6 separate regions of the Homo sapiens genome follow, and regions 1, 2, 3, 4 and 6 are each reported to be linked to region 5. Evidence: microRNA targets listed by miRTarBase, many of them from high-throughput screens and not tested one by one. Region 5 holds a microRNA gene; each other region holds the end of a gene's coding sequence.
What was found. Region 5 holds the annotated microRNA hsa-miR-4539 (GCUGAACUGGGCUGAGCUGGGC, at 2,510-2,531, opposite strand). A microRNA usually pairs through its seed, bases 2 to 8, with sites in the 3' UTR of a target mRNA and lowers its output. Matches are read on the target gene's strand: a 7mer-m8 pairs with bases 2 to 8, a 7mer-A1 pairs with bases 2 to 7 and ends in A, and an 8mer does both.

Region 1 (5,084 bases), not on the chromosome of region 5:
CAAAATCAGACAGAACCAGCATCCTGTCAGAGGCTGTTCTTCCCCTTTGGTCCCTCTGCTGGGCTTTCTCCAGCCCCTTGCCCTCAGGCAAGAGAGGAGCCAGCAGTGCAGTCTGCCAGGGGCTCCAGGGGCAGGCTCTTAACACAGCAGGGCCCTTCAGATGTTCCACAGCAGGGCCCTTCAGATGTTCTGTAACTGACAACCCCAGGCCCACTGCCTGCCAGCATCTGTTCACAGAGACACGGCATCACAAACTCTCCGGACTGGAAGGGACATTGGAGGTCATCCACTCCAGCTTTGGGGATGGCATTTTCAGACTGTTCTAATAACTCAAGAGCTACTCCTTCTTTTGTGTGGAAGACTGTTTCTTCTGACTTCCTCTTAATATGCTGCCGGGTCTCCTTCCTAAGGAGAAGCATGCTGGGCCTCGTTTTTGTGGATCTAGCAGCGAGAGACATGACGAAGCCAGATTTGGGAACACAAGTTCTTTTTGTCCTTCACACTACAGCTACGAGAATGGTCTCCATGGTTACAGCAGCTTCTCAGAAATGTCTGGATTTTTCATTTTCTGTATTTCTCTAAATGTCTAGTTTATGAATAATCTGCTTAGGTGACCGGCTGGAAAGTTTCTGCATGTATATGAATATCAAGAAGTACATATTTATATACATTCAAAAGAAAAGTAGGCTGATAGGCATTTTTGGTAATTTTTTTTCTCCCACTGTAAAAATAAATTAGGATTGACTTTAAAATTTTCAAGTTAAACAAGATTCAATGAAAGAAACAGTGCCTTCGTGTTCTTCAAAGGCATGTGAACCATAGAGTGGCTGGAGCTAACCTGATTATGTTTTCTTTAATGTGAAATAGCTATTTGCCTGACATTCCATTCGCATCTCACCGTCGCATTCAACTGGCTGGGACATTGATTTTTTTCTAGGGCTTCCTTTGAACATGAAAGCATTTTTCCTGTTTCTCTCCATTTCCCACCTTGTGAGATACATGATAAGAATGAATCGATAATTACATTGTTGGATAAAAATGAATATAAATTTTATTGAAAAACAACACCAGCAACAACATGGAGAAAGCATACTCAACAGCCACCGGCCCACACAACTCAATGCACACATTATGAGAAGTAATCACCTCTTTCAATTGCCGACTACTTACTCCAAATGAAAAGAAATTATAGACCTAAGATAAACTGAGGCGGGCAATAGAGGCACACCATCTTCGAAAATTTTGCCAATAGCAAATGATGTAGTGATGCTGTTAACCCTCTGTTTGCTGCAGGCAGACCAGGATATCTCAGGAATTAATTGGTTTGGAGAGGAGAAAACCCACTCCTTCTAGTGAACATGGCATCTAAAACCTCAGACCACTGGGAAAACTTTTCTCCTTTTCAAGTCCTTTGAGAAGAGGATTTCACAAACTTTCTTGGCAACTTGTCCCTCCTGCTTAACAACAGGAAATAGTTCTTTATGTCTAGCCGAAATCCTTCATGCTTCAGTTAGTCTATTTATTTACTTTTAATCTTAGCAGGCAGTGAGGAGGCTGTCCTGGTAGGACAATGTAACATATGGGGAACTCACAATGATCATAATCAGATTGAAAATGGAGTCCAGCTGAGCTATGGCACTTCTGAAACAAGCTGGAAAGAAGTGTACTGAAGTTGTGGTTGTAGTGCCTCTGCCCACCACTCCTCCACCCTCGGTTCCCTTCTGCCCTGTGGCCTGGGGGCTGCCATCCTGAGAATTGCAAGCAGATACTTTCTGAGTTTGATCGGTTCCAATCCTTCAATGGTATAGTAATGAGTGTAGTCACAGCTGTTCCATCCAGTCCTATGTCAAGTGCTTCTGTTTCAAGAAGTTATTTCCAGGCAAAACAGTCCCATCACATCCCTTGTCTTTTCAACACACCAGGTTGTCCCCCAGGATGCCCTCACAGCTTGTGCGTGACAAAGATGTCCTCCGTGTACACATAAGGTAGCGCTGAGAAGCCACGAGAAAGCACCTAGTGATTTTAACATAAACATTTCCACAGCATTTTCAAGTTCTGCGAAAAAGCCCGGTGATAGATCAGCCTCGCGGTGTGCAGCGCCGGCAGCTCCGCACTTCGGACACCTGGGGGCGCCCGTGCCATTCCGCCGGCGACTGGGACTCGTCGCCCGGGAAACAAAGATGGGGATTTAAAGAAAAGCCTTCAAAATGCAACTCCGAATGTCTACCCTGAGCAGCATGCGTGTAAAAATTCATGAAGATTAGATTTCATTTCATGTATTTTTACTTCAGTGGAAAGAAATGCAGGTGATTTTCTGACTGCGCCTACAGCTGTCTTTACAAAGGGGGTGCCTAGTTAAACGAGAGGGAGGGGCTTGCTGATGCCCTGCGGTGCTTTGAGGGGCGGGGCCTCCCTCTCTGGTGCTGGGGACAGCTCCTATTTTGCTGGGTGGCATTCTCTGCAATGCTCCAGGATGTATTGATTAATTATATTGCATATCGAAAAGGTATGGGGGTCTCCAGCAGGACTAAGCGAGGCAGCCAGCGCGGGGTCCAGTGAGTGACATGCGTCATCGAAGGCACTTATTGTTTTGATGAAACAAACACATTTCTTTAAGCCCATAAAATCAGAAGTGTGCAAGACGGCTGTTTTCAGGGTGTAAAACTCCCTTTGTTTCCCTGTGGTGGTGCATAGCTGTTATGCCTCCGGGGCCTTTGTGCATTTTTCAGGTGTGAGTGACACGAGGCTGGCTGGGTGGCCTCGGTGGCAGAGACTGCGGAGGGCGCAGGACCTGCCCAGGACAGTTCAGCCCCCCAGGGGAGACACCCCTTTTGCTCGAGGCCGCCGGCCTGTTGGATGATGGGCACCCTTGTGAGCTGGTTCTGGGCTAGGCCACCGTGCTGGGTGGCAGTGGGGACTTTTAGGGGAGGGATCCCGGGGGATAATGAACAGAAGTGTCTGGAGCCTGGATCTTCAGTCAGGCCTGGGCAGGGAAGGCTGCTGCTGCCTGGCAGTTTCCTCACCCTGTACTCTGGATGGCAGGGGCCGGGCCCCCTTGGTTCACCTCTGTAGCCCAAGCATCTGGTACTTCTGTGAGCATTTGTTGGATACAGGGATGTGAGGGTGAGTGCCACGGAGGAAGCTATGAGGGTCCCAGCTGGCCCTGGCTGTGGTTGAGCCTGGAGGCCTGTGGAGGGGCTGTGGGGAGAGGTGCCAGGCAGTGCTGGCTCTCAGGGGTTGGGGGGCACTGAGACAGCCAGGGGCCACGGAGCTGGAGAAGCCGGGAGTTCAGCAGGGAGCATGTCTGTGTGCCAGGATGGTTCTGCAGTGGCCATGTGGGGCCTCTCTCGCCTTTCCCTCTTATCTGCCCTCGCTGAAGTCAGCCTTTCCTCCGTTGCCATGGCAACGGCAGCCTGAGGCGCTGCTGAGGGCCAGCTGGGCAGCTGAGGCCTCTCAGTCTGTGCCTGAGCAAGCAAGGAGCCCTGAGCTGTCCCCATGCAAGGTGAGACTGGAGGGGGCTGTCTTCTCAGAGAAGGGAGGAAAGGAGACGGGATAGGATGTTTTCTCCGAGACAGGCACAAAAGCTGCTCTCGTGCAGCTGGAATTCTTCCCAGCCCTGGCTTTGCTGGTAGAGACACTGGGGGCAGGCAGAGCCCTGTTAAAGTGTGAGTCTCCTCGGCATTGCCGCACTGCACTACTCACCTGATCTGCGCCCAGGTCCTTATTCAGGGCTATCCACAAGACTCCCCAAGGGCCTGGCCAGCCTCTGGAGGCTCTCTGTGGAGGTGGGGCAGGGGCCTGAGGCCCAGGCTCTGTGAGGGCCTGGAGGGCACTCCAGGCCTTAGACTGAACTACCTGCCCTGTGTACTCCTCTCAGAGCAGAGCTGGAGGTCTTACACCCTCAGACCAAGGCTGCAGCTCTGCCGACAGTGTCCCTCCCACCTGCACAGCCACAGCGGGCATGGGCTGCTCTTTGCTTTGCAGTCTCCTCACAACTTTCTGGTTGTCACATTCCTGACTATACTTAGGGATGTTGGAGACGATCAGCTTCCAGCCAGTTGTGGGTCAGCTGGCTTCCTCACCACACCCTTTTTCTTGGGCTCTTGAAGAACAAGAAGTAGCTAATGAAGAGGCAGCAGGATGCAGAAGATGATCAGGTCTGGGAGGAGAAGATAGTCCAAGATTCCCTGGGGGCTCGGAGCTGTCGAGAGGCACGGTGATATTGCTTGAAAGGGGCTCTGTGATTCAAGGACAACCCAGCCTTGCAAATCATGTCCCCTTGGGCATGGAAGAGAATTCTCTAAGCATCATGTGAAAAGCTGTCAACCTGGGCAATATCCCTGCTTTCCCTCATCAACCCTACAGCAACAACAACAGCAGCAGCACTAATACGAGAAGGGGCATCTGGATGCAGGTGTACAGTTTACAATACCTTAGATTTACATAGCACCTTTTCCTTCTAAAGAGCCACTGCCTCTGCCCCCTCAGTCACAGCCACACCTGAGTGAAGCCTTCAGAACACAAAGATCACAGCTCCTGTGGCAGAGGTGGGACACTGAGGCAGAGGCCTAGAAGGGATTTCATGCAGACTCAGTGGTGTCCAGGGCTCCCTGCACTTCCTTCGAGCCCTCCCTGGGGAGGTCTGGCCTTGGCCCTTTGGGAGGGTAAGACCGGGGCACAGCCCTCACTGGGCATTCACTTTGTATTTCAGGATGTAGGAGTAGAAATTGTGGTTGGCATTCTCCAGCACCATGACATAGACTTCCTGGCAGCCAGCTGTGCTGCAGCTTCCCTCCCAGTAGCCCTCGTGGTTCAGGGTCAGGGGCCATGTGTCCTGCCCCTTCACCAGGACTTTGGCAATACCATGCAGCTTCAATTTGAATGGGACATTCCGGTTGGCAGGAAGCACACCTGACAGAGGTTCCAGCAGCTCATTGTCCTGTCCCCAGTTGCCAAAGCTCTCAGGGAACATGGGCCAGTTCACCTTGGTGTTGGCACAGCATACAAGGTAATTAAAGACGAAGATGTAGTTTCCTGGTTCCTGCCTCTTCTTGACAAAGATCTTGAGGGCAAACTTGCCTGCA
Region 2 (5,084 bases), not on the chromosome of region 5:
AAAGGACACAGCTCAAGAATAGCCAAATGGAAGAGATACATAGGATCTCTACGTATGGAGGGTGGAGGTGTGGATGCCATGCCTTCTACCACCTTCCCAGCACCTACACCTGTTTATCAACCTGGAGGCTCTTCAAAACCCCTTGTTTGGGGGTTTTTATGGAGGTTCCATTATGTAGGCATGATTGATTAAATCATTGGCCATTGGTGATTGAACTCAATCTCCAGCACCTCTCTGGAGGCTGGGAGGTGGGGCTGAAAGTTCCAATCCTCTAGTCATGCCCTGGTCTCCCTGGTGACCAGCCCTCTTCCTGAAACTATCTAGGCTACCCCCATAGCACCCCCCGGGCCCCCAGTGGGGAATCATCTCTTTAGCATACAAAGACACTCATCACTCAAGAGATTCCAAGGGTTTTAGCAGCTCTGTGCCAGGAACTCTGGGCAAAGGAAAAATATTTATTTTTTATTACACTACAAGGGTTAAGGTAGACATCAAGGTGGACATCAGGACTGGTGTCCTGCCCTGGGCCCAGCCTCGGGCCAGTGGGCCTCCCAGCACCTGCCTGGCTACAAGGGTCCCTAGATGGGTACAGGGGTATCTTCCTCCTTTCCTTTCTTTCTCCAGGAGATTGTGACTGCTTTAAGCTGCGGCAAGAACATTGTGCCCATCATTGATGGCTTCGAGTGGCCTGAGCCCCAGGTCCTGCCTGAGGACATGCAGGCTGTGCTTACTTTCAACGGTATCAAGTGAGCCCCAGGGCCCTGGGACCAGGGGGGTAGGGTACAAATCACCATGACAGGCAGAGTGTGGGCAAACAGCTGACTAGCAGCTCCCTCTGCCCAGCTGTCTGAACCACATTGGCTCCTGTGCCCACAGGTGGTCCCACGAATACCAGGAGGCCACCATTGAGAAGATCATCCGCTTCCTGCAGGGCCGCTCCTCCCGGGACTCATCTGCAGGCTCTGACACCAGTTTGGAGGGTGCTGCACCCATGGGTCCAACCTAACCAGTCCCCAGTTCCCCAGCCCTGCTGTGACTTCCATTTCCATCGTCCTTTCTGAAGGAACAGCTCCTGAAACCAGTCTCCCTGGGCTGAGACAACCTGGGCTCTTCTTAGGAAATGGCTCTCCCTCCCCCTGTCCCCCACCCTCATGGCCCACCTCCAACCCACTTTCCTCAGTATCTGGAGAGGGAAGGGAAGTCAGGCTTGGGCACGGGAGGTTAGAACTCCCCCAGGCCCTGCCATTGGGTTGTCTGTCTCCGTCATGGGGAGGGTCCCTGCTCAGTTCTGGAGACACTGGAGTTGGGGTGGGGGTGGTTCTGCATTCCCTTCTCCTGCTGATAGCAGTCAGCTTGAGGAGGATGACGGAAGGCAGCCTCAGACAGGAATTAAGGCAATGCCCAGGCGGGCCTGGGCACTGTATTCTGAGCAAGGGCCTGGGCCCAGGAGCCAGCCAGGGATGAGTGCCATCATGGCTCTCCACTCAGACTGTGCCTGGCCCCTGCACTTACAACTTCCTGCCGCTCTGTGGCCTTGCCCTGTAATCACTCAGTGCCCTTAGCTAGCCTGACTAAGTCCCAGATCCCCTACAGCTTCCTTCGGTGTGGTATCTTTTGCCACATCCAGGGCGAGGGTTGAGGCAAACCAGCCCTCCCTCTGACTTCCTTGTCACTGCAGCCAGCTTTGCTGCACTTGCTGGTGCACAGGAGCCTCCTGTTTGGGCCTGGGTCTGGGCATGGGGAGGCCGTGCCTCAAAGCCCACCCTACCCCATGCCTTGGTGCTGTGCCTCAGGCTCCTTCCTGGTCTGGCCCAGCTGGCTTCCCCAGCCCCTCAGCCATCCAGGGCTACCCACTGCTTACTCAGGGACCAGGCAGCCCCCATGGCAGTAAAAGCAGCCTAGACAGAACCTGCAGCTCTGTGGAAAGAGGCAAAGTCCTGAAAAGGCAAAGGGTTGTCACTTAGGGCAGCTTCTCCAACTTTAACATGCATCCAAGTCACCTGGGAATGTTGTTAAAATCAGGAGATCTGGGGTGGGGCCTAGGACTCTGCATTTCTTACAGATTCCCAGGTGAGCTGATGCTGGTGGTTAAGGGTAGCAAATCTCTAAAGCACGAAGCCCTCACAAATCTTTGCCATTTCCCAAACACTCCGCTCCATGGTCTCCAGTCATCAGAGCAACTCTACCTGGTATTATCATCCCCATTTTACAGATAATGACACTGAGGCTCAGAAAGGTTGAGGATAAGCCCACTTTCCTGTCATTAGTGGCAGCCCCAGATCCAGACCTAGGCCTCCTGGCACCCAGTCCACTGGCAGTGGAATTGCTTTCCTGAGAATCATTCTGAGGCTGGGCTATTGCTTCTCCCTTGCTTCAAAGAATCTAGCAGCGGGGGATAGGATTTTGCAACAAAAAGCTGACCCAGAGGCCATACAGAGCAGGAATATCCCATTGCCCCCTCCTCCACTGGGTTCAGAGGGTAAGAAAGCACCCTCCAATAAACCCAGGCTCCAGGCCGTGGGGGCTGCTGAAGGCTCTTTCCCCGCAAGGGCCAGGTGTTGACACCTTAAAGCTGGCTGCGCCCCCAGCCCCACTCTTGGCTGTGCTGGCCAGGTGACTCCTAGTTCTTGGCCACATCATCAGAAAGTCAAAGGTCTCACTCCAGGTTTGGGGCTCCTTCCTTCCACTCCCCTCCCTGCCAGAGTCTGTCTTGGCCAGTGCCAGCCTCGATGCTTTGGTTTTGACCCCACCTGATCCTCCTTTCCTCATGCAGCACAAGTGCTCACCGGGGCCAGAGCCAGGGCATGGATATGACAAGCAGGGCAGCCTGGACACTGCCCTCACAGGACAGCGCCAATAACAATACAGTGTCTGAGTATCTCCAGGGGATGATTTCTGGCTCTTTGTCTCCAATCAGTCCCACTCCCTCCTGAGGTCCCCAAGGGCAGTATTCAGAGAGGTTTCCTGCGTTTTATTTCTATTTGGTATACCCTCCACTGTTGTCCACTGCCCTGTGTGGCCTTCTGGTTGACCTCTGCCCGATCTTCTGTCTCTCTGAGGGAATCAGAGTCCAGCATCCAGCCCCAGCTGGAACAGCTGAAGTCACAAGCCTCCTCTAAGCCAAGGCCAGTGTGTTCAGAGGTGACTGCCACCCATACTAGGACAAACACAGCTCAGATCACCAGGTCAAGCACCTAGGCCTGGCTTCTCCTGAGACAGAGGACTCAGAAGTGGCCTTTCCTCCAAAGCCTGCTCAGACACAGGTCTGTAGGGCCAGGGTGTTCTGCTTGGCTGGGCTGCAGCTGCTACCCCTCGGTTGGGGCTGAGTCAGCCAGATCCTCCCCCTACTTCTCCCCAAGGGCCAAGAACTGCTCAGGGACATTAAAGGTCAAAAGTCCAGCCACACTCATTCATCCTTTCCCCAGGCCCATGAAGAGAGGCATCTCATTGTAGAATGTATGAGGAAGTGGGAAGTATCTCAGAGAATCAGCTAAGTTTCCTAACTTGTCCATCCAAATGTGATCACCACGATTCAACAATTTGGGGCATTGCTGATCTAGCCGTTCCTAGTGGGGCTTGCTCAAGGTTGCACAGCGAGTCAGTAGAAGCCCTGGCTGGCCCCACTTGGTACCAATCCACCAGGCAGCTCAGGGCTCCTGCCCAGCCCAGCAGCTTCTGTTGTCTAACGTATGGCAGGCAGACTGGGAGCAGGAAAACAGAGGGCCCCAAAGCCCAAGGCACCAGAAGGTTTGTTTCAGTTTGCTGAAGCTGATTTGTAATGATTGGCACTCTTCAGCCAGGGGAGTGGGTAGGCCATAGCCAAGGATCGATTCCCCAACCACAGCAAAGGCAACACTCTTCCTCCAGAGATCACCAAGCCCCTCTTACCTCCCTCCCTCCTTCCCAAGGCTGGCACTAACCAGGTACCACATTCATTGTTAAGGAATGGCTGATGACTGCTACACGTGTTGGGAACCTGGTTGGGGCTGTGCAGTTTGGGCTGGAAGGAGAGATGCCAGCCCTCGTGCTGCCTCTGGTCCCTGAAGTGTCACCTCTCTCAGGACCTCTCCTCTGGCCTGTGGGGTTATAAGTGATGGATAGCAGAAAGGGAGAACTGACTCCTGTCCCAAATAGCTCCTCTGCCACCTGTCCTGCAGTGGGCCTGTGTGGGTTATGATTCTAGATCCTAGACAGAGGCTGGGTCAGCTGTGGATGGGGTGGTGCCTTGGTCTCTCTTGACTACCTCGTCCAAAGAGAGCACTGCCCTTAGACAAGAGTTGCTTGTCCTGCTGTGGGCTGGGCTTCCAGCTGCAGACCTCCAGTTGCTTGGTGTTCACTTTGCTCCTCTTGCCCTCTGTCTTCTGGTCCAGGCAGATCAGGGGCTCTGGGGAAACTGCTGGAACTCGAGGTGAGGATCAGCCTTTTCCAGCATCCTGTGAGAGACCAGAGAGAGAGTTTGGATTTCATGTGGGGAACCCTCAAGGCCTGTCTGGAGAAGTGACACAGGATTTACTGGGGTGGGCTGGTCCAGGTAGCTCTCCTGAACCTCCTCCTTCCCCAAGCTGAGAAGCTGAGAGCTGGAGGACAATATCCAGGGACATGGCTCTGGAAAATAACTTTTTTTTTTTTAAGAGACAGGGTCTTGCTCTGTTGTCCAGGCTGGAGGGCAGTGACATAATCATAGCTCACTGTACCCTTGAACTCCTGGGCTCAAGTGATCCTCCTGCCTCAGCCTCCTTAGTAGCTGGGACTACCAGTGCATACCACCATGCCTGGGTGATTTTTTAAATTTTTTATACAGACAAGGTCTTGCTATGTTGCCCAGGCTGATCTTGAATTCCCGGGCTCAAGTGGTCCTCCTGCCTCAGCCTCCCACAGGATCGGGATTACAGGCAAGAGCCTCCACGCCCGGCCATGAAATATAATTCTTAATATCATACAGGAAAAAGTCAGCGGGTCAAGCTAGCCTGTGGCCCAGCCACAACTAGCTGACAAAGCTTCCTGGCCTTCCCTTTAACACAGTTCTGCTGCCATAGTTCCATCTATAAAATGGGAATGGAGGGAAATAGGGGAACTGGGAGAGA
Region 3 (5,084 bases), not on the chromosome of region 5:
AGCAGCGCCTTGGCGGGGGCCGTGGTGGCCCATCCCGCCGGGCCCCCCGTGCAGCCCAGCCCCCGGCCCAGCCTTGCCAGCTCTGTGGCCGCTCACCCCTTGGGGAGGCCCCACCGGGAACCCCACCCTGCCGGCTCTGCTGCCCTGCTACAGCCCCCCAGGAAGCACCAGCCCCTGAAGGCAGGGCCCTCGGGGAGGAAGAGGAGGAACCACCTCGGGCTGGGGAGGGCCGACCAGCTGGGCGGGAGGAGGAGGAGGAAGAGGAGGAGGAGGGAACCTACCACTGTACGGAATGTGAGGATTCCTTCGACAACCTGGGGGAGCTGCACGGGCACTTCATGCTGCATGCCCGGGGTGAGGTGTAGGCAGAGCCCCCATACGGGGAGCTTGGCAGAAGGGGTGGGGTGGGAGGAGGGGGCTGAGGAAATTGGGGTTGTGACAGTGGTCATGGGGGATGGGGTACTGCCGGTCTGTGTTGTCTTAGAAGTAGATGTGTGATGGCCAGAATAAAAGCCAAAATCTGTATCTGTGTGTGTTGGTTCAGAGTGTGTGTGTGTGTGTGTGTATTCCCGCCCGTGTGTGTGTTTGTGTGTGTGTGTGTGTGTGTGTATTCCCCCTGGGCTCCTTCTTGGGGAACCTTGGGGTCTTTTGGGAAAGATAACATTTACTGCGTGCTTGTATTCGATGAGGTTTCCATGTATTTACTTACAGACCCCATAATGTAAAGGCTCTAATAATAGAATTTTGTTTCTCACTCACAAAATGGTGCTGGGTGAGTCATTTGGGGACCCAGGCCATCCCTTAAGCCTGTTGTCTCCCCCATGGTCCAGACTGGGTGGCCATAGCCTGGGTCCTGCTGGCAGAAGAGGACAGGATGCCTGGTGAGGTGCACGTGTTGTCTTACAAGCCCTGGCCTGCCAGGGGCACACACTGCTTCCATTGACACGCCTTTGCTGAGAAATTAGATATGTGGCCGCAGCTAACTGCAAAAACAACCTGGGAGAAGCAGTCTAGCCAAGCGCCCAGAAAGCAGAAAACAGTTCATGGAGGACAGCTAGGGCTTTCTGCCACATAGCCTAGGAACTTCCACAAAGAGGACTTTAATTATAATCACAGCTACGCTTTCTCAGCGCTTCCTGGGTATCTGGTGCCAGTCCAAGGGCTTTATATATATTGACTCATAGAAATGGTGCATCTAGGAACTTACAAAAATAGAACCTTAATGATAATTGCAGCTGCCATTTTCCCAGCACTTACAGAGTGCTGTACTTAATTTGCATGAGATTATCAGCTTCTTAGAATAACCCTGTGAGACAGGGATTGTGATCCATTAATTCATTTAACAAATATTTTTGAGTACCTGCTGTGTGCTAAGCATTGGGAACACAGCAGTGAATAAAATAAAATCGTTGTCCTCATGGAGCTTACATGGGAGTGGGTAGAGGCTGCTGGTGAAGACAGACATAAACAAGTAAGATACAGCATATGCCGGGTGCTGATAAATGCTGTGAGAACAATAAAGCACTGAAAGGAGGCCCGGCATGGTGGCTCACTCCTGAAATCCCAGCACTGAGGTGGGTGGATCGCTTGAGCCCAGGAGTTTGAGACCAGCCTGGGCAGCATGCCAAAACCCCATCTCTACAAAATACAAAAAATTAGCTGGGCTAACGATGGTACACGGCTATAGTCCTAGTACTAGGGAGGCTTAGGTGGGAGGATTGCTGGAGCCTAAGAAGTGTCGCTGCACTCCAGCCTGGGCAACAGTGAGACCCTGTCTCAAAAAAAAACCACACACACACACACACACACAAAAAAAAAACTGAAGGAAGGCCAGGTGCAGTGGCTCACACCTATAATTCCAGCACTTTGGGAGGCCGAGGTGGGAAGATTTCTTGAGCCCAGGAGTTGAAGGCCAGCCTGGGCAACACAGTGAGACCCCATCTACAAAAAATTAAATTAGCTGGGCTTGGTGGTGCATGCCTATGGTCCCAGCTATTCAGGATCACTTGAGGCTTGGAGGTTGAGGCTGGAGTGGCCTGTAATTGTGCCACTGTGCTCACTGCACTCTAGCCTGGATGATGGCAGGAATTTGTTGCAAGAAAAAAATTTAAAAAAGGACTGAAGGGAGAACTGTTCTGGAAGGAGGTTGCAATTTTAAAGAGTATAGTCCTCCCTGAGAAGGTGACAGATCTGAAGCCGGGGGGAGCCATGTACATCAATGGGGAAGAGCACTTCAGGCTGGAGGAGGCAGGAGCCTGCCTGGTGTGCCAAGGAGGCGAGAGCTGTAGGGATGAGGTCAAAGGGTAGCAAAGGACCAGCTCTTTACAGCCTTGCCAAAACTTGGGCTCAGAGATGGGAAGTACTAATTCGTAATTCACAGAAGCTTGGCGCCGAAGCTACTTTGAAAATAGAAGCCTAATTATAATAATAGCTATCATTTACTGAGAATTTACTGGGCAACCAGCCCTGTTCTAAGGCGCTTTACATGTGTTAACTCATAGAAGGTTGGAGACTAAGAACCTTCAAGAATAGAACCTGAATTACTGTAATGGCCATCATTAAGTCAGCGCTCACGGTGGACCAGGCCCTGGGCTCAGTGCTTTATGTGGACAGTCACATCAGATCCTTACAAGTTAGGGACTGTTACTTGTTTACTCATTCACCCAACAATGATTTATTGAGCACCTATGAGATGGCAGGCACTGCTCTGGGAGTTGGAAATATAGCAGTCAACACAATGAACAAAAACCCCCTCCCTTTGTGGAGGTTATAATGGGGAAGACAGTAATCAAGTATTTAAGTAAAATATACAAATTGTGGCTGGGCGCGGTGGCTCATGCTTGTAATCCCAGCACTTTGGGAGGCCGAGGCGGGCGGATCAAGAGGTCAGGAGATTGAGACCACGGTGAAACCCCGTCTCTGCTAAAAATATAAAAAATTAGCTGGGCATGGTGGCGGGCACCTGTAGTCCCAGCTACTCGGAGAGGCTGAGGCAAGAGAATGGCATGAACCCGGGAGGCAGAGCTTGCAGTGAGCTGAGATCGCGCCACTGCACTCCAGCCTGGGCGACAGAGCGAGACTGTCTCAAAAAAAAAAAAAAAAAAAATACAAATTTTATGGAATGTTAGTCATAAGTGCTATGGAGAAAAAGGAACAGGGTGGGAAGCTTGTGTGTGTGAAGGTTGCAGTTTTAAGTAGGGTGGTCAAGGAAGGCTTCACTGAGATGACATCAGAGCAGAGACCTAGAGAAGGGGCAGGAGTGAGCCTTGTGGCTGTCTGTGGGGACAGTAAATGCAATGGCCCGAGGTGGGAGCCCACTTGGGGTGCTTGGGAAGAGAACACAGGGCCACGAGGCTGGAACTGAGGAAGACAGGTAAGAGGTGAGGTCAGAAAGTAGCGGAGAACCAGGCCGTAAGAGCCATATACTGACTTTGGCATTGTCTCCAAGTCTGAGTCCTCACAGTAATCTGAGTGCTCATAATAATCCTTAGAGGCTACCTTTATGACTATTTTATAACTGCTACAACAGGCCAGGCATGGTTGCTCATGCCTGTAATCTCAGCAGCTTGGGAGGCCAAGGCAGGTGGATTGCCTGAGGTCGGGAGTTTGAGACCAGCCTGGCCAACATGGTGAAACCCCATCTCTACTAAAAATACAAAAACTTAGCTGAGTGTGGTGGTGCGTGCCTGTTGTCCCAGCTACTTGGGAGGCTGAGGCAGGAGAATCGCTCGTACCTGGGAGGCGGAGGTTGCAGTGAGCCCAGATTGCACCACTGCACTCCAGCCTGGGCAATAGAGCAAGACTCCGTCTCCAAAAAAAAAAAAAAATCTGCTACAACAGAGGCACAGGGAGGTTGAGTTACCTGCCAGAGGTCACAAAGCCAGTAAGCAGCAGAGCCCTGGTTTGTACCCAGACAACTGGATGCAGGTGCATCCACTCTTAACCACTAAGCCACACACCAGAAATGGCAGTCTAGTGCCCACAGCCACCATCTGACTTAGAGGAGTGTATCTGGTCTCCACAGAGCTATTGAATTTTTTTAAGTTACGTTGGTTACCAATGTTGAAAAATGGGTAATTTCACATTTAAAAAAATTGAAGTTTCTGGACTGTCTCGAAAATTGTGAGATCTATATTGCTGAACCCCCAGTTCCCATGGGGATAGTGGTTTGTTGGTGCTGAGAAGGAGTCACTTTCTGTAGGGGAGGCATTCACTCTTATGTGCCCAGTCACCAATGCCTCACATCTGGACACCCCTACCCTGCCTGCTTGGCCCTGAAGAGCATCTGCTTTTTTTTTTTTTTTTTTTTTTTTTGAGACGGAGTCTCGCTCTGTCGCCCAGGCTGGAGTGTAGTGGACATGATCTCAGCTCACTGCAGCCTCTGCATTCTGGGTTCAAGCGATTCTCATGCCTCAGCCTTCTGAGTAGCTGGGACCACAGGCGCGGTACTACCACCCCCGGCTAATTTTTGTATTTTTAGTAGAGATGCAGTTTCACCATGTTGGCCAGGCTGGTCTCGAACTCCTGACCTCAAATGATCCGCCCGCCTTGGCCTCCCAGAGTGCTGGGATTACAGGCGTGAGCCACCGTGCCTGGCCAGCATTTACATTTTTGACACCTATTACAGGATTTCAGACCAAAGCATTTTTCAAAACCCACGTTTCTCATCCCAGAATCTCCAAACCTGACATTGATACACTCTGAACTGAGACTTTCCTAGCCACTATAGCTTAGCATCATGGAACCTCAGAATCATCAGCAGAAATTCCAGGCTCATTAAAACAACAGAGTCTTAGTCCGTTTGTGCGGCTGTAACAAAATACCTGAGACTGGGTAATTCATAAAGAGCAAAGGTTAATTCCTCATAGTTCTGGAGAGTGGTTAAGTCCCAGGTCAGGGAACCAGCAGATTTGGTGTCTAATTAAGGGTTGCTCTCTGCTTCCAAGTTGGTGCCTTCTTGCTGCATCCTTACACAGTGGAAGGTGGCAGAAAGGGATGAATGCTGTGTCCTCAGATGGTAGGAGAGATGGAAGGGGAGAAGGCCTAGCTACTTCCCTTGGGTCCTTTTCTAAGGGCACTTATCT
Region 4 (5,000 bases), not on the chromosome of region 5:
TGATAGCATCCAAAACTCAGGCGGAGCCCCAGGCTAGGTAATTCTCTGAGCTAGATTTCCAGATAGTCCATGGTCAGTGCATGTGTTCAGATGCTCTGTGCAGACAGCCTGTCACCCTCTGCGGCTCCATTGCCAGAATCTGAGGGGGTTTGATTTGCAGATCCTCATACAAAAGCTTAGCAATCCTCTCCAGGGAGGTGTCTGGCCAAACCTTTTCTCTGACTCCCCAGGAGGGCGGTGCTCCCCTCTCTTCACACCCTCCATTGACTCTGTGTCATTCTTCCAAGGGAGCACACCTCCTGCCTCCCTCCGCTATCCATCTTCCATGGAACTGCGGATTCCAATTTAATGAGATGGGCTCCCAGTGGCCTCTTCTCACTCCATCCAGAGTTTCAAATTAAGTGCAAGGCAGTGAGCACAGAGGTCTTGGCTGGCTACCTGAAGGCATTTCCCCAAGGAGGATTGCAGACCACTCTCAGGCAACAGGATGGCCTTCCCTCCTCAGTAGCAGCTCTGCAACTCCCTGGACAGAGCCCCCAGGGGCAATTAATAGCCTGACTGCCATGGTCTCTGCAGTGAAACTGCCCTTGCTACATCTGGACTAACAAAGGAGCAAAGACCCTATGTACCTTATCTGTACGTACCTCCAACAAGCTGCAGTCGACCAGAGGAGGGGAGGCCAGTTCCTCTCCCAAGGGTGCCACACACCCCTCCCTGTTCATCACCAGACAGGCCCTTCCTTCTTAGCCATATGCTAACCTTCTCCTCCCTGGGAAATTTCCTCTGCAGGAGCCAAAGCAGATGGGAGCTGGAGTTGCTGGAGCTCCTGGTCTGTATGCAGAGCAGGCATCCAGGAAAGGAGAAGAGAGTGTGACAATCCAGCACCTCAGAATGGAGGGGCCTCGTGTCCAGGGCGGAAAGTACAGACGCAGGCTTGCTGAGGGCCTCTGGACACAGGCTGGACCAGATGCTGTGGATGTCGACCCCTGCACTGACTATTGGATAAAGACTTCTTTCAACTAAGAGAAGATGCAAATCAGCACACTTTTTTCTTTGTTCTGCCAGCTTCCAGGCCTAAGACTAGGTTTTGCTGTCTACAGCCAACTATTCTATTAGTTACAAAACTCAATCATTTTATTCAGCAACTGGATGTTGACTGTTAACTAGAAGCTCTGTCCTACTTACAGCACTTTGGATCATCAAAAAAATAAAGTAAAATAGAAAACTGAGAAAACTCAATCCATGACCAGGGAGAACTTACAGGATGTTAGAGACAAAACAAGCAGACACCTGAAACAATCAACGCCCAATAAAACAAAGTAGGATGAAAATTCTCTTAGTTCTTTGATAACAATTTGTTCACTCATAGAAACATTATTAATTGGTAGGGTAAGCAGACACTCTGAAACAATGAGAAAAATACTAAAAATTGACTTGAGTTATTTCAATTTGCCTTCATTTGAACTCGTTTATTAATTCAATTAATCTCTCTAGTTCCCTTAAGTTCTTACCACAAATGTGACATTTCTCCTGATTATTTTCTCATGGAACACTTCTTTTCCTACATTGCAATTTTCACAACTAGTAATTATATTATCTTAGTCTATTTGGGCTGCTATAACAAAAAGCCATAAACTAGGTGGCTTATCAACAACAGAAATTTATTTCTCACAGTTCTGGAGGCTGGGAAGTCCAATATCAAGGCAGATTCAGTGTCTGGTGAGGGCCCACTTCTTAGTTTTTACAGGACTGTCTTACTGCTGTGTCCTTACATGGCAGAAGGGGCTAGGCAGTCTCTTAGGTCCCTTCTTTAAGGGCACTAATCCCATTCATTAGGGCTCCATTCTCGTGACCTAGTCACTTCCCAAATTTCCCACCTCCTCATGCCATCACTTTGGGGTTAGAATTTCAACATATGAATTTTGAAGGGACACAAATGTTCAGATCATAGCATATATATTTAATCCCACATCTCCTGTGACTATGTAAGACCTATCTCTTCCTAAGAGATAATAATCTTGAGGGCAGAAGTCAGGCTTCTTTTGTTTAGCACTGTAGCCCCGGAGGTCAGGCTTGTGCCTTAAATGTAGCAGGGACTTAGTAAGTAGCTGTGATTAAATAAGTGAATGAATTGAAGAGTCAGTTCATAGATGAGGTACACATTGGTCAGCCTCCCAGAGTGGAGAGTGGATTTGAAGAGGCCAACTAGTGACGATCAATCCGCCTTCTCTGACCCATCTCTAGGGGAGGCCAATCACACCAGCCAGCCTCAGAATCCCACAGCCCTCCAGTCATGCCTCAAATAGAGAACATGTTAGGTAGCACTGAATTTTCTGTTTATCCATCAGTTTCCCCTATTAGATTTTGAGCTCCTTGAAGGCCAAATCTACAATCCTAGTGTATAGTAGGTACTCAAGAAATGTCTGGTGACTAACATATATATTGATGCTTCAAGTCATTCCAGAGTCCTCAATCTTGTTAAAGTCAGAATAAGAATTATGTACCTGAAACAACTAGAGGAGGTTTTAGGGAAATTAATTGTTGAGTTAATGCTAAAATATGTAGCACACAAAGTAAGTGCTGAAGGAGGCCAGGTGGGAGAGAGATTTACCTTTCCATTACTGTGTATATTGTGGATGGCATGGGGATTGCCCCAGGCCCTGAAGGACTTTTCAACTAGGCAAACTGGGAGGAGATCTCTCAGACAGAAATTCGGCATGAGACAAAGTCTGAAAGTGAGAAAGACATTTGGGGGTGCATGCAGGTGCGTATGTGTCAGGAAAGGGGAGTGAGGAAAATAATGCATGTAAATAAAATAAGGCATATAAAACACTTGGCACTATGCCTGTCATACAGGACATTATTACCCTCATGCTTATCGTCATCATTATTAAGACTATTATTAATTAAAGAATGTGATTTAGAAGTTAATTTCTGAACTCTTTAGATCTTCTACCTGAAAGAAGAAAAAAAACTCTCCTATTGCTTTTCATCCTGTCATTAATTTGCTTTTTACTTTTTAACTTACATTAATAATTAACCTACATTCATTATTTACTGAGTAGTGGCAGTTACATGCTAGAAAGTGACCAAGGGCCAAATATGCCAGGCCACGTGGGCACTTTAAAGAGAACGTTTGATCTTGACCTAAAAAAACAGTGGTTCTTAAACTTGGTTGTATGTTACAATCACCTGAGCAGTTTTCAAAACCCTGATGTCTACAGACTGCACCCGAAACAAATTAAATCTTAATCACTGGGTGTAGGGACCAGACATCCATAGTTTTTTGGGGTTTTTTTGTTTGTCTGTTTGTTTTGAGACAGAGTCTCCAGGCTGGAGTGCAATGACACAATCTTGGCTCACTGCAACCTCTGCCTTTGGGGTTCAAGTGATTCTCCTGACTCAGCCTCCTCAGTAGCTGGGACTATAGGTGCACGCCACCATGCCCAGCTAATTTTTGTATTTTTAGTAGAGATGAGGTTTCGCCATATTGGTCAGGCTAGTCTCGAACTCCTGACCTCAGGTGATCCACCCACCTCGGCCTCCCAAAGTGCTGGGATTACAGACTTGAGCCACTGCGCCCGGCCTGACATCCTTAGTTTTAAAAGTTCCTCAGGTGATTCCAAGTGCAGCCAAGGTTGAGGCTCCTGAGAGTGGAGGAATCATTATACCTGCATGGGGAATGGGGTCTGTGACAAAACAAAAAGGCAGGGACAGTAAAGTTATTTGTGCTATTTTAACTAGTCTTATGCAAGATCTCTTAAGGTTTGTTTTCTATGTCCTATTGTGCAGCCAAGAAACTGAATCTCAGCAAGGTTGAGCCTCATGGGTCACAGAGCAGGCCAGGGTTTGAATGCGTCACATCAAACACACGCTTCCATTTCCTCCACCCACCCTTTGCTCTTGTCTGCTGGTGGAGGGATTTGGAGAATAGTGTGTGGGGCACAAGGGAGGGGAGGAAACCAGAGGCAGGGAGGCTCATCAGGAGGTAAGTGTAGTAATCTGGGCAAAAGATGAGAACTTTGAGATTAAGTAATTGCCTGGATCATCTGTGAGCCAAAACCACCAGCTGAGCAATGCTGTCTTCCTGTCTTCTGAGCCAGAGAACCCAAGCCAGCATCTGTCCCACTCCTCTGAGGATGCTACATCCCCAAAAGCTTTACAAATTAAAATACAGTGGCAGTTTCAAGCATAGCAACCCTTTATTACATCAGCAGCTTTCCCTCTTCAAGAATGACTGGCTCTCACAAAGCAAAAAGCATAAAACTCATCCAATGCATTTTCCCTTAGGTCTTTTAAGAAGATCTATAATCTAAGGTTTTATAGGTAGTGGGTGTAAATACATGGTTTAAAGATATAATCTTCAGCTTGACAAGGTGTCTTTTGAAAAGTAAATTAATGACAGAATAAAAAGCAATAAGGAGAGGCTTTTTTCTTTTTTTTTTTCTTTGTGAGAAAGGAAGATCTAAAGAGTTCAGCACTCAATGAATCTCTTCTGAACTATATGCCTTTAGGGTGAAGAAAATGGACAGAGAGAAAGGGTAGGCTTCAAAAGCCACATTGCAGAAATGAGAGATGGCAAAGTGAAGCCACTGAGTGCCATGAGAGGAAGGGGATGTGATACGGATTAGAGGAAAGGCATGAAGAAAATTTATGGTGATACTCCTTCACATCAGAAATGGGCAAAATACTCTCTGGAGATCTCTTGTGCAGGCCCCATGCTGGGTGCTGGAGGTTCAGAAATGGATCAGACATGGTCCCATCCCTGGAAGAATGCAGCCTGGTAAAGGAGAGCTGTGAACAATGGCAATAGGTCCCAGGCAGCAGGAAGCCCAGGGACCTGTGGGGGATAACCAGCTGTGGGAGCAGGGCAGGCAGCCAGGACATGGCCAGCAGAATCTCAGACACAATGAGAGTTGGAGCATCAAAGAAAGCAGAAGGAGGGGCACGATTGTGCAGGGGAAATGTGCAAAGTAACAGAGCTGGAAAACCAGGAGATA
Region 5 (5,084 bases):
CATCCTCGCAGATGCTGGCCTCACCCACGGCGCTGAAAGTGGCATTGGGGTGGCTCTCGGAGATGTTGGTGTGGGTTTTCACAGCTTCGCCATTCTGGCGGGTCCAGGAGATGGTCACGCTGTCATAGGTGGTCAGGTCTGTGACCAGGCAGGTCAACTTGGTGGACTTGGTGAGGAAGATGCTGGCAAAGGATGGGGGGATGGCGAAGACCCGGATGGCTGTGTCTTGATCTGGAGTCAAGAGAAGGGAGTCAGAGGTGGGGCAGGTGTGGATGTGGGCGGAGGCATGGTTCCCACCCAAAGAGTAGCAACTGCCTCTGCCGAGCCCAGGGGTCCTGCCGCCCGAGCCCCTGCCCTTGGCCGCTCTGGGAAGCCAAGGCTCAGGGAGTAGATGGCTGCATCCGGGGTGGCGAATGCCAGACCCGAGTGGACCCCTGTGTGTCGGTGGGTGCTGCCCCTGGGGACAGGTCACTCACCGGGGACACACATGGAGGACGCATTCTGCTGGAAGGTCAGGCCCCTGTGATCCACGCGGCAGGTGAACATGCTCTGGCCGAGCCAGTCGCTCTCTTTGATGGTCAGTGTGCTGGTCACCTTGTAGGTCGTGGGCCCAGACTCTTTGGCCTCAGCCTGCACCTGGTCCGTGGTGACGCCAGACCCCACCTGCTTCCCCTCGCGCAGCCAGGACACCTGAATCTGCCGGGGACTGAAACCCGTGGCCTGGCAGATGAGCTTGGACTTGCGGGGGTTGCCGAAGAAGCCGTCGCGGGGTGGGACGAAGACGCTCACTTTGGGAGGCAGCTCAGCAATCACTGCAGTGAGGGACACGTGTCAGCCCGGTGCCCGCCACTCCCGCCCCCTTCGGCTCCCTCTCTGTCCCGGTGGCTGGGCCCGGCCCTCACCTGGAAGAGGCACGTTCTTTTCTTTGTTGCCGTTGGGGTGCTGGACTTTGCACACCACGTGTTCGTCTGTGCCCTGCATGACGTCCTTGGAAGGCAGCAGCACCTGTGAGGTGGCTGCGTACTTGCCCCCTCTCAGGACTGATGGGAAGCCCCGGGTGCTGCTGATGTCAGAGTTGTTCTTGTATTTCCAGGAGAAAGTGATGGAGTCGGGAAGGAAGTCCTGTGCGAGGCAGCCAACGGCCACGCTGCTCGTATCCGACGGGGAATTCTCACAGGAGACGAGGGGGAAAAGGGTTGGGGCGGATGCACTCCCTGAGGACCCGCAGGACAAAAGAGAAAGGGAGGGTGAGGAGCTGCCTCCTCGTGCCCTGCCTGTCGGGGCTGAGTGGCGTTCTGAGTGCCCTCACTACTTGCGTCCCGCTGTGGCTGCCCCACCAAGGCCGAGCCCACCTGCAGGCCTCCAAAGCCCAGACTGTCATGGCTATCAGGGGTGGCGGGGCCGTGGTGAGGCCTCAGGTCTTTGTCCAAGGCTGCTGGGGCTGCAGGCCTCAGCCCATCCTGCTGCAGGGCCCAGCACTGAACACCTGGACAGACCTGGGGTCTCCTGGAGCAGGCTGAGCCATCCCTGCCACCATTCAGCTGGCTGCCCTGCTGCACTCTGAGGCCTGACTGCCCCTGGCTCCCTGCTCAGAATGGCTGAGGGCTCAGGTTTGGGTGGACCAGGCCTGCTTTCCCCCGAGGCATCAGCACGTAGGTGCTGCACACACTCAGCTCCCAGCACATGCAGCTGGAGGGCCCAGGTTGCATACCTGAATGTGAAGCCTGGAGCCACACACCCCGCAGGCAGCCAATAGAGTCCCTCCAGCCCAGCTTCTGCTGCCCCCAGCTCAGTCACACTCCAGCTACCCTGAAGTCTCCCCAGGCAGACAACCCAGGCCTGGGAGTGAGTATAGGGAGGGTGAGTGTGATGGGGAACGCAGTGTAGACTCAGCTGAGGCTATCCATCTATGTCCAACAAGATCATGAAGATTGGCCCAGTGCCATGTCCTCCAGTTCATCCCAGCCCAGGCCAGCTCAATCCAGTTCATCCCAGCCCAGGCCAGCTCAATCCAGCCCAGCCCACCCCACCCCAGCTCAGCAAAGCCAAGCTCAGCTCAGCCCAACTCAGATGAGCTCAGACCAGCTCAGCCCAGCCTAGCTGAGCTCAGACCACCTAAGACCATCTCAGCTCAGCCCAGCCCAGCTAAGCCCAGTATAGCCCAGCCCAGCTAAGCCCAGTATAGCCCAGCCCAGCTAAGCCCAGTATAGCCCAGCCCAGCTAAGCCCAGTTTAGCCCAGCCCAGCTAAGCCCAGTATAGCCCAGCCCAGCTAAGCATAGTTCAGCACAGCCCAGCTCAGCTCAGCACAGTTCAACCCAGCTCAGCCCAGCTCAGTGCAGCACAGCCCAGCTTAGCCCAGCCCAGCCCAGCTCAATCCAGCCTGGCTCAGCCCAGCCCAGCCCAGTTTGGCTCAACCCAGCTTGGCTCAGCCCAGGTCAGCCTGGCTCAACTCAGCCCAGCCCAGCCCAGCTCTGCTCAACCCAGCTCTGCTCAACTCAGCCCGGCTCAGCCCAGCTCAGCCCAGTTCAGCTCAGCCCTGCTCAGCACAGCACAGCAGAGCTCAGCTCAGCCCAGCTCAGCTCAGTTCAGCTCAGCCCTGTTCAGCACAGCACAGCAGAGCCCAGCCCAGCCCAGCCCAGCTCATCCCAGCTCAGCCCAGCCCAGCCTAGCTTAGCTCAACCCAGCTCAGCACAGTTCAGCTCAGCCCTGCTCAGCACAGCACAGCAGAGCCCAGCTCAGCCCAGCTCAGCTCAGTTCAGCTCAGCCCTGTTCAGCACAGCACAGCAGAGCCCAGCCCAGCCCAGCTCAACCTAGCCTGGCTCAGCCCAGCCCAGCCCAGCCCGGATCGGCTCAACCCAGCTTAGCTCAGCCCAGGTCAGCCCAGCTTAACTCAGCCCAGGTCAGCCCAGCTTAACTCAGCCCAGCCCAGCCCAGCTCAGCCCCCAGCTCTGCTCAACCCAGCCCAGCTCAGCTCAGCTCCGCTCAGCCCAGTTCAGCCCAGCTCAGCCCAGCCCAGCCTAGCTTGGCTCAACACAGCTCAGCTCAGCCAGCCCAGACCAGCTCAGCTCAGCCCAGTCCAGCTCAGCTCAGCCCAACCCAGTCCGGCTCAGCCCAGCCCAACCCAGCCCAGCCCAACCCAGCTCGGCTTAACCCAGCTCGGCTCAGCCCAGATCAGTCTGGCTCAACTCAGCCCAGCCCAGCTCAACCCAGCCCAGTTCAGCCCAGCTCATCCAAGCTCAGCTCAGCCCAGCCCAGTTCAGCCCAGCCCAGTTCAGCTCAGCTCAGCCCAGCCCAGTTCAGCCCAGCCCAGTTCAGCTCAGCTCAGCTGAGCCCAGCCCAGCCCAGTCCGGCTCAGCTCAGCCCCGCCCCACTCAGCCCAGCTCAGCTCAGCCCAGCTCAGCCCAGCTCAGCTTAGCCCAGCTCAGTTCAGCCAGGCACAATCTGGCTCAGCCCAGCCCAGCCCAGCTCAGCCCAGCCCAGCCTAGCTCAGCACAGCCCAGTTCAGCTCAGCTCAGCTTAACTCAGCTCAGCTCAGCTCAGCCCAGCCCAGCCCAGGTCAGCTCAGCCCAGCCCAGCCCAGCCCAGATCATCCCAGCTCAGCTCAGCTCAGCTCGGCTTAGCCCAGCTCAACCTGGCCCAGCCTGGTCCAGGTCAGCCCAGCCTGGACCACCCAGCCCAGCTCAGCTCAGCCCAGCTCATCCTGGTTCAGCTCAGCTCAACCCGGCTCAGCCCAGGTCTGCTCAACCCAGCCCAAATCAGCTCAGCCCAGCCCAGGTCATCCCAGCTCAGCCCAGCACAGCCTACTTCAGCTCAGCTCAGCTCAGCCTAGGTCAGCTCAGTTGAGGTCAGCTCAACTCAGCCCAATCCAGCCTGGCTCAGCCCAGCTCACCCTAGCTCAGCTTAGCTCAGCCCAACTCAACCCAGCCCAGCCTTGCCCAACCCAGCTCAGCTCAGCCCAGCCCAGGTTAGCCCAGCCCAGCCTCGGCTTAGCTCTGCTCAGCTCGGCCCTGCTCGCCTCAGCCCGTTCAGCCCAGTTCAGCTCAGCTCAGCTCAGCCCAGCTCAGCCCAGCCCTGGTTAGCTCAGCCCAGCTAAGCTCAGCTCGGCTCGGCTCTGCTGAGCTTGGCCCAGCTTGGCTTAGCCTGATACAACCTGCTCAGCCCAGTTCAGCTCGGCTCAGCCCAGCCCAGCCCAGCGTAGCTCAGCTCAGCTGAGCCCAGCCCAGGTTAGCTCAGCCCCAGTCCAGGTCAGCTCAACTCAGCCCAAACCAGCCTGGCTCGGCCCAGCTCACCCTAGTTCAGCTTAGCTCAGCCCAGCCCAGCCCTGCCCAACCCAGCTCAGCTCAGCCCAGCCCAGGTTAGCCCAGCCCAGCCTCGGCTTAGCTCTGCTCAGCTCGGCCCAGCCCAGGTTAGCCCAGCCCAGCCTCGGCTTAGCTCTGCTCAGCTCGGCCCTGCTCGCCTCAGCCCGTTCAGCCCAGTTCAGCTCAGCTCAGCTCAGCCCAGCTCAGCCCAGCCCTGGTTAGCTCAGCCCAGCTAAGCTCAGCTCGGCTCAGCTCTGCTGAGCTCGGCCCAGCTTGGCTCAGCCCGACACAGCCTGCTCAGCCCAGTTCAGCTCGGCTCAGCCCAGCCCAGCCCAGCGTAGCTCAGCTCAGCTGAGCCCAGCCCAGGTTAGCTCAGCCCCAGCCCAGGTTAGCTCAGCCCAGCTCAGCTCTGCCCAGGTTAGCTCAGCCCCAGTCCAGGTTAGCTCAGCCCAGCTCAGCCCTGCCCAGGTTAGCTCAGCCCAGCTAAGCTCAACTTGGCTCAGCTCAGCCTAGCTTGGCTCAGCCCAGCACAGCACGCTCAACCCGGTTCAGCTTGGCTCAGCCCAGCCCAGCCCAGCCTAGCTCAGCTCAGCCCCGCTCAGCCCAGCCTAGCTCAGCTCAGCCCCGCTCAGCCCCGCTCAGCCCAGCCCAGCCCAGCCTAGCTCAGCCCAGCTCAGCCCAGCCTAGCCCAGCTCAGCCCAGCCCAGCTCAGCGCAGCCCAGCCCAGCTCAGCGCAGCCCAGCTCAGCTCAGCTCAGCCTAGCCTTGCTCAGCCCAGCTCAGCTC
Region 6 (5,084 bases), not on the chromosome of region 5:
AGGCGACACAGCAAGACTCCGTCTCAAAAAACAAAACAAAACAAAACAAAACAAAACAAAACAAAACCACTGCACACAATTGCCACAGTAGCTTTATCTGTAATAGCCCCCAACAGGGAACAAACTAGATGTCCCTCAATAGGTGAATGAATTGTTACACAAACTGTGCTAAACCCATACCATGAAATACCACTCAGCAATAAAAGGAATGAACTACTCATATACACGTAACAACTTGGATGTGTATCAAGGAAATGATATTGAATGAAAACAAGACAATCTCAAAAGGCCATGCACTGTAAGATTCTATTTATACATCAACCTATTTAGGACAAGTAGAAGAGATTAGTGGTTGCTAGGGTCAGGAATGGTGGGGAAGGAGATGGATGCAACTATAAAGGGGTGGCATGAGGGAGATCTTTGTGCTGATGGAACCATTCTGTATTTTGTTTATGGTTACAGCGATAAAATGACATAGAACTATACACACACATTGTACCAACTTCCTGGTTTTAATTTTGTATTATAGTTAAGTGAGATGTAAGTACTGGGGAAACTTGGTGAAGGGTGTTATACTATACTACAATTGCAGGTTAAAAACACACATATCTAACAGTCCAGCAGTGTTTTGCTTTGTTTAAATCCATCTACTTCTCCTTAGAAAAGTAATGATATGAACCACATGACTTCATCTTCTGGATACTATGATTGGACTGGGTGGGAAGAGATAAGGAGAACCAACCCACAAGTGAGAGTGAGCCAATCAGGCTGTCTTCAGAATTTGAACTGAATGAAAGAGACCAGCCATCCATAAAGGGTTCTGCAGCTAAAAAGTCCTGTGACAATAGGATCAAAACTGGATCCCGGCAAGTCCAAGCCACTTGAGGTCACGAGGCAAGTACCAAAACCGTGAGGCTCCTTGTCTATAAAAATGCCTAATGAGAGAATATTCCCTTTCAGAGCTATTTTGGTGGTGAATAGGTTTCTCCTTCTTGCAGCCATCAACCCTGACCAAAATGTGTGCTTGAAAAAGACATAAAAAGGTAAAAAAGACTTGTCTGCATCATTATTTGCTATGGCCCTGTCCCCATACCCCTGAAGTTTCAGAGAGCTGTCATTTTAACAATCTAATCCTCATCTCGCTTGACCTGACTGCTCAAGTCAGTGAGACTAGAGTTTGAGGGAGAAGACAGCAAACCAGATGTCTACTAAGGAGGGTAACACGATGTGCCCAGGTATACTGGACACTCCAAGCAGCATACCAGAACTATGGCCTCCACCCAGAGGGCTCCAATGCCAAGGGTAGTGACCTGGAATTTAGGGGTTAGAAGGAAGGTCCTCCTGAATACAAGTTAACAAATAATCTAGAGGTTGGAATTCATTCATTCATCTCTAAATCTTTATGTATTTATTGGCGGTGGGTGGAGGTATAGGAAGTGCGAAAGGATACTGATCTTTCAGGATCAAGGTTGAGGGACCCCACCTACTGACGTAGGCTCAGCCAAGAGCCCCACCATATCAACATCAATTACTCTTGGCCTGGTGGGAAGTAAACTGAAAAGGTCACGTGCAGGCCAAGCCACCATCTCCTCACCTCCTGGGTTAATCTCTACCTCCAGTCTCCCATCTTAGAACCCTAGCACAATGCAGAGTAGAAAAGACACTGACATCAGACTGTCTGGGTTCCAGTACTGCTTCTGCCATTTCCTGCTGTTTTGACTGCTCTGTGCCTGTTTCCTCACTTATAGAAAGGAAATTACAGGCTGGGTGTGGTGGCTCACGCCTGTAATCCCAGCACTTTGGGAGGCTGAGGCGGGCGGATCACAAGGTCAGGAGTTTGAGACCAGCTTGGCCAACATAGTGGAACCCTGTCTCTACTAAAAACACAAAAAATTAGCTGGGCGTGGTGTCGGGCGCCTGTAATCTCAGCTACTTGGGAGGCTGAGGCAGGAGAATTGCTTGAACACAGGAGGCGGAAGTTGCAGTTAGCCAAGATCGCGCCATTGCACTCCAGCCCAAATAACAATGCGAGACTCCATCTCGAAAAAAAAAAAAGGAAATTACAGTACCCCCTCATACCACCTGGCATTGGTGAGGTGATGATCACTGGCCTTACAATATCTTAGCTCTACCTTTGGTGCCCACTTCATTGGGTGGTTTCCAGAATACATATGAGAAGTCAACTGAAAAGAAGCTGAAGCAATCCAAATGTTGTTTTTGGTGTTTTTAATTGTTTTTGTTAATGTAAAAACAGAACCATCACAGCCGCTCAGCTCTATAACCCATCCAGCCCAAGACTGTTCTAGTGGTGAAACCAAGAGTAGACAGGTCTTCCTACCTCAGTGACCTCAAAACACAAGGACATCTCCATAGGGCATCAACATGCATCTGTCATCCAAGAATCTAAGAACTTCCTGATCCTTCCACATTTTCTATCAATAATATTGCCTTCTGAGGTTATGGATTCCAGGTCTTCTATGAAATAGGTAAAGCTTCCTTTCGCGTTCCAAGAAATATAGTTTGCGAAGGGAACTGGAAAACGTGACTCTAGGCCTCAGCCACTTCCTCTGTTACCCTGTGCAAGTTGTAGAACAATCCACGTTCTCACAGCTCCCCTTCTTCAGTTGTGGAGTTCTTCAAGGTGGACAGATCACACCTCAGGAAGTCATCCCTTGTAAGCACACTAGAATTTATCATAAAGGCAGGTCGGCTTGTTAGTTTTTCTTTGTCCCCAGCATACACTGAGCCAACAACTTAAGTCATGAATGGGTTGTTTAGGGCTCTGTCTGTCCTAAATGATTCCTAAAAGCTTCATATAGCTCATATAGTCTTATTGTCCACTGCTCTTTTGGTGTGGTATGATCCTACCTGTAAAGCTATCAAACCCCTGGGTCCTGGATGCCTCCTCCAGATTTCATACCTTCCTCAAGTTTACTAAATACTTTCTGAATTTAAGAATTTTGAGAAAGTCACCTACCAGCTAATGCAAAAACACAGCCTAATTCTGTGTGAATCCCTGTTGAGATCAGCTTTTCAGGTCAGGGAGGGAAGGTATGGGGTTTAGGGTACCCTCTCCTATCACACACATCCCCCCTGCCCACAGTACCCTGACCTACCTTGCCTGAGACTCCTAGACACTATGAGCTCCCTTCTGGCTGCCACTCAGACTGGCCAGGAAGGCTCCCAGATTGAACACAGGTGACCTGGTATAGATACACACTGTACTGTGGGCCAGAACCATGGACTACATTTTAAGCCATGTTGTGGGCCCTTCCTGCCTACAGAAAAGGACACTTGAGTGGAGTCACACTTGGGTTGCCTAATTTATTACCTTAACTAGAAACATTCTAAGTATGGGAGCCTGTTCTGGAGGATAGCTTCTAAACCAAATCTAAAACTATCTTTGCACACAAGTGTTGTGAAGAGGTAAGCAGGGGATCAGAGCTCCATCTTCTGTGACCACTTCTCCAGGGACTGCCACCTATAGGGCTCAGGTTGGTACCAACAGCCCTGCATAGTAGAGTCACTGTCAATCATCTTCCCACTTGTAAGCAGGAAGACAAAAAGTCTCATGAAATAGAAACGAAAACACTGAAGCATGGCCTTCATCGTCCTAATGCCACAAGTTTCCTGGGATGGCCAAGATACTACCTTAGCTTATTGTCCCTGCTTCACCTCCAGAGACTGGAGACAGAGGATTTTCCGGGGTTGGGGTTTCTTCTCTGACTTGGCAAATTCTTCTTTTTATCTCCAGCTGAACCACCAGTTCCTTGGGTAGCAGAGCAGAGACCTAAGCACAAACCACAGGGCTTACTAGCACATCCTTCAAGCCACTTCCTTTGCTGTTCTATTACTCTTCTTCAGCTTATCTGAACCTGCGGACTCTCTGGATACAGAAACTGCCCAAAGCATGGTGAAAAAGACAAAGGGCCCAGGTTTCACCTGGCAACCACTGCTCCCAACATCTAGAGTAAGTCAAAGAGGCTGAAAGATGACAGCCTAGTTCTCTTTGCCTTCATTATGATACTAACAAAAACCAGAAGTTTCCAGGAGTCAGCAAGCTACTCAGTATCTGACGTGGTTTCTAAGGTGGAGTTGCATGGGGAGCACTCTCCCGTGGCTGCTGAGTGAAGGCAACAGTGATGTCCAAAACAAGCCCGTCCGGCTCTGAACCACCAGTTGGCAGGCCAGGATGACTCCAGTCTTTAGCAAAGAGCTTTCCATTCTAACTCCCGAAATCCCAGACCAGATGGATGTCTCCTCCCAACTAGGCGCAGAGGGTAGCACAGACTTCCAAAAGGAAACACCTTCATTAAATGCAGCAGGCAGTCCTATATGCTGACCCTTGGGTCAAACCACAGCTTAAGCGGGGGAAGAAGTGGTTCTGATCCATGTACAGCCAGATCTGCTGAGGAGTCTGGGGTTCCCAGGAACCAGATTTGCAGATCCTGGACGATGGTGCTTCCCTTGCTGGCACCGTATCACCTAACCTAATGGTTTCTCTGAAGACAGTTGGCGGAGAGGCAAAAATGACTGTCTTAAACAGGTCTTCCGACACGTGGACAGCTCAGCAGGACCACACACCTGTCCAGGGCCCACCATGAGGCAGCCATCACCAACTTGGTAAGGAGGACATATCACACAGCATCTTCAGGGTGCTGGAGGCAGGCGCTGTGGCAGGAGAGGTAGTGAAGAAGGGTCAAAGCTTTGACAGGTTATCATCATATTCAGACCCTCTATCCCAATTATCCCAACTCCTGAGAATTTATTTTAAAGAATTAATTCTCAATAGGAAAGAAGTTGGATACACAAGGACACATGTTCTAGCTGCCAAGTGGTTAACAGAACATGGACTCTAGAGTGAGAGACTCAACTTTCCACTTTTTAAGGCAAGTGCCTATGTTCTCTGAGCCTCCTTTTCCTCGCCTGTAAGAGGTAGATGACAGCATCTACTTTCCAGGGTCACCGTAAGGATTAAATGAAATAATCCACATAAAGCTCCTGAGTTTAATCTGTGCTCAACAACAAAGGTCACCTCATATTATTACACATGAAGACAGAAAAGGAATGCAGAAAAAAGGAAA

Region 1: miRTarBase lists KY as a target of hsa-miR-4539. Seed matches in the 3' UTR shown: 7mer-m8 at 3,847-3,853.
Region 2: miRTarBase lists SARM1 as a target of hsa-miR-4539. Seed matches in the 3' UTR shown: 7mer-A1 at 2,471-2,477 and 7mer-A1 at 3,134-3,140.
Region 3: the mRNA of ZNF428 is a reported target of hsa-miR-4539. Seed matches in the 3' UTR shown: 7mer-A1 at 539-545.
Region 4: miRTarBase lists C8A as a target of hsa-miR-4539. The part of its 3' UTR that is shown has no 7-base or 8-base seed match.
Region 6: miRTarBase lists KANSL3 as a target of hsa-miR-4539. Seed matches in the 3' UTR shown: 7mer-A1 at 4,167-4,173 and 7mer-A1 at 3,869-3,875.

Annotation. Positions count from the first base shown.
Region 1 is chr3:134,598,895-134,603,978 of GRCh38, forward strand. KY (kyphoscoliosis peptidase) reads right to left here. Exons shown (of 11, transcript NM_178554.6): 11 at 1,029-5,084. The coding sequence ends at 4,685. It also overlaps a transcript of CEP63 not described here. Among named protein-coding and RNA genes, the nearest start is that of KY, 50 kb to the right of the region's middle.
Region 2 is chr17:28,395,281-28,400,364 of GRCh38, forward strand. SARM1 (sterile alpha and TIR motif containing 1) reads left to right here. Exons shown (of 9, transcript NM_015077.4): 8 at 625-746; 9 at 877-5,084. The coding sequence ends at 1,006. SLC46A1 (solute carrier family 46 member 1) reads right to left here. Exons shown (of 5, transcript NM_080669.6): 5 at 1-4,433. The coding sequence ends at 4,376. Among named protein-coding and RNA genes, the nearest start is that of SLC46A1, 8.4 kb to the right of the region's middle. RefSeq lists enhancers at 401-1,084, 1,768-2,451, 3,216-3,305.
Region 3 is chr19:43,602,898-43,607,981 of GRCh38, reverse strand. It overlaps ZNF428 (zinc finger protein 428), which reads left to right. Exons shown (of 3, transcript NM_182498.4): 3 at 1-758. The coding sequence ends at 365. Among named protein-coding and RNA genes, the nearest start is that of SRRM5, 6.6 kb to the left of the region's middle.
Region 4 is chr1:56,916,776-56,921,775 of GRCh38, forward strand. C8A (complement C8 alpha chain) reads left to right here. Exons shown (of 11, transcript NM_000562.3): 11 at 790-1,448. The coding sequence ends at 941. Among named protein-coding and RNA genes, the nearest start is that of C8B, 47 kb to the right of the region's middle.
Region 5 is chr14:105,855,004-105,860,087 of GRCh38, forward strand. MIR4539 (microRNA 4539) reads right to left here and starts at 2,569; the gene lies at 2,510-2,569. MIR4507 (microRNA 4507) reads right to left here and starts at 3,172; the gene lies at 3,121-3,172. It overlaps MIR4538 (microRNA 4538), which reads right to left and starts at 3,239; the gene lies at 3,162-3,239. It overlaps MIR4537 (microRNA 4537), which reads right to left and starts at 4,550; the gene lies at 4,481-4,550. It also overlaps IGH and IGHM.
Region 6 is chr2:96,590,961-96,596,044 of GRCh38, forward strand. It overlaps KANSL3 (KAT8 regulatory NSL complex subunit 3), which reads right to left. Exons shown (of 21, transcript NM_001115016.3): 21 at 2,212-4,671. The coding sequence ends at 4,651. Among named protein-coding and RNA genes, the nearest start is that of KANSL3, 45 kb to the right of the region's middle.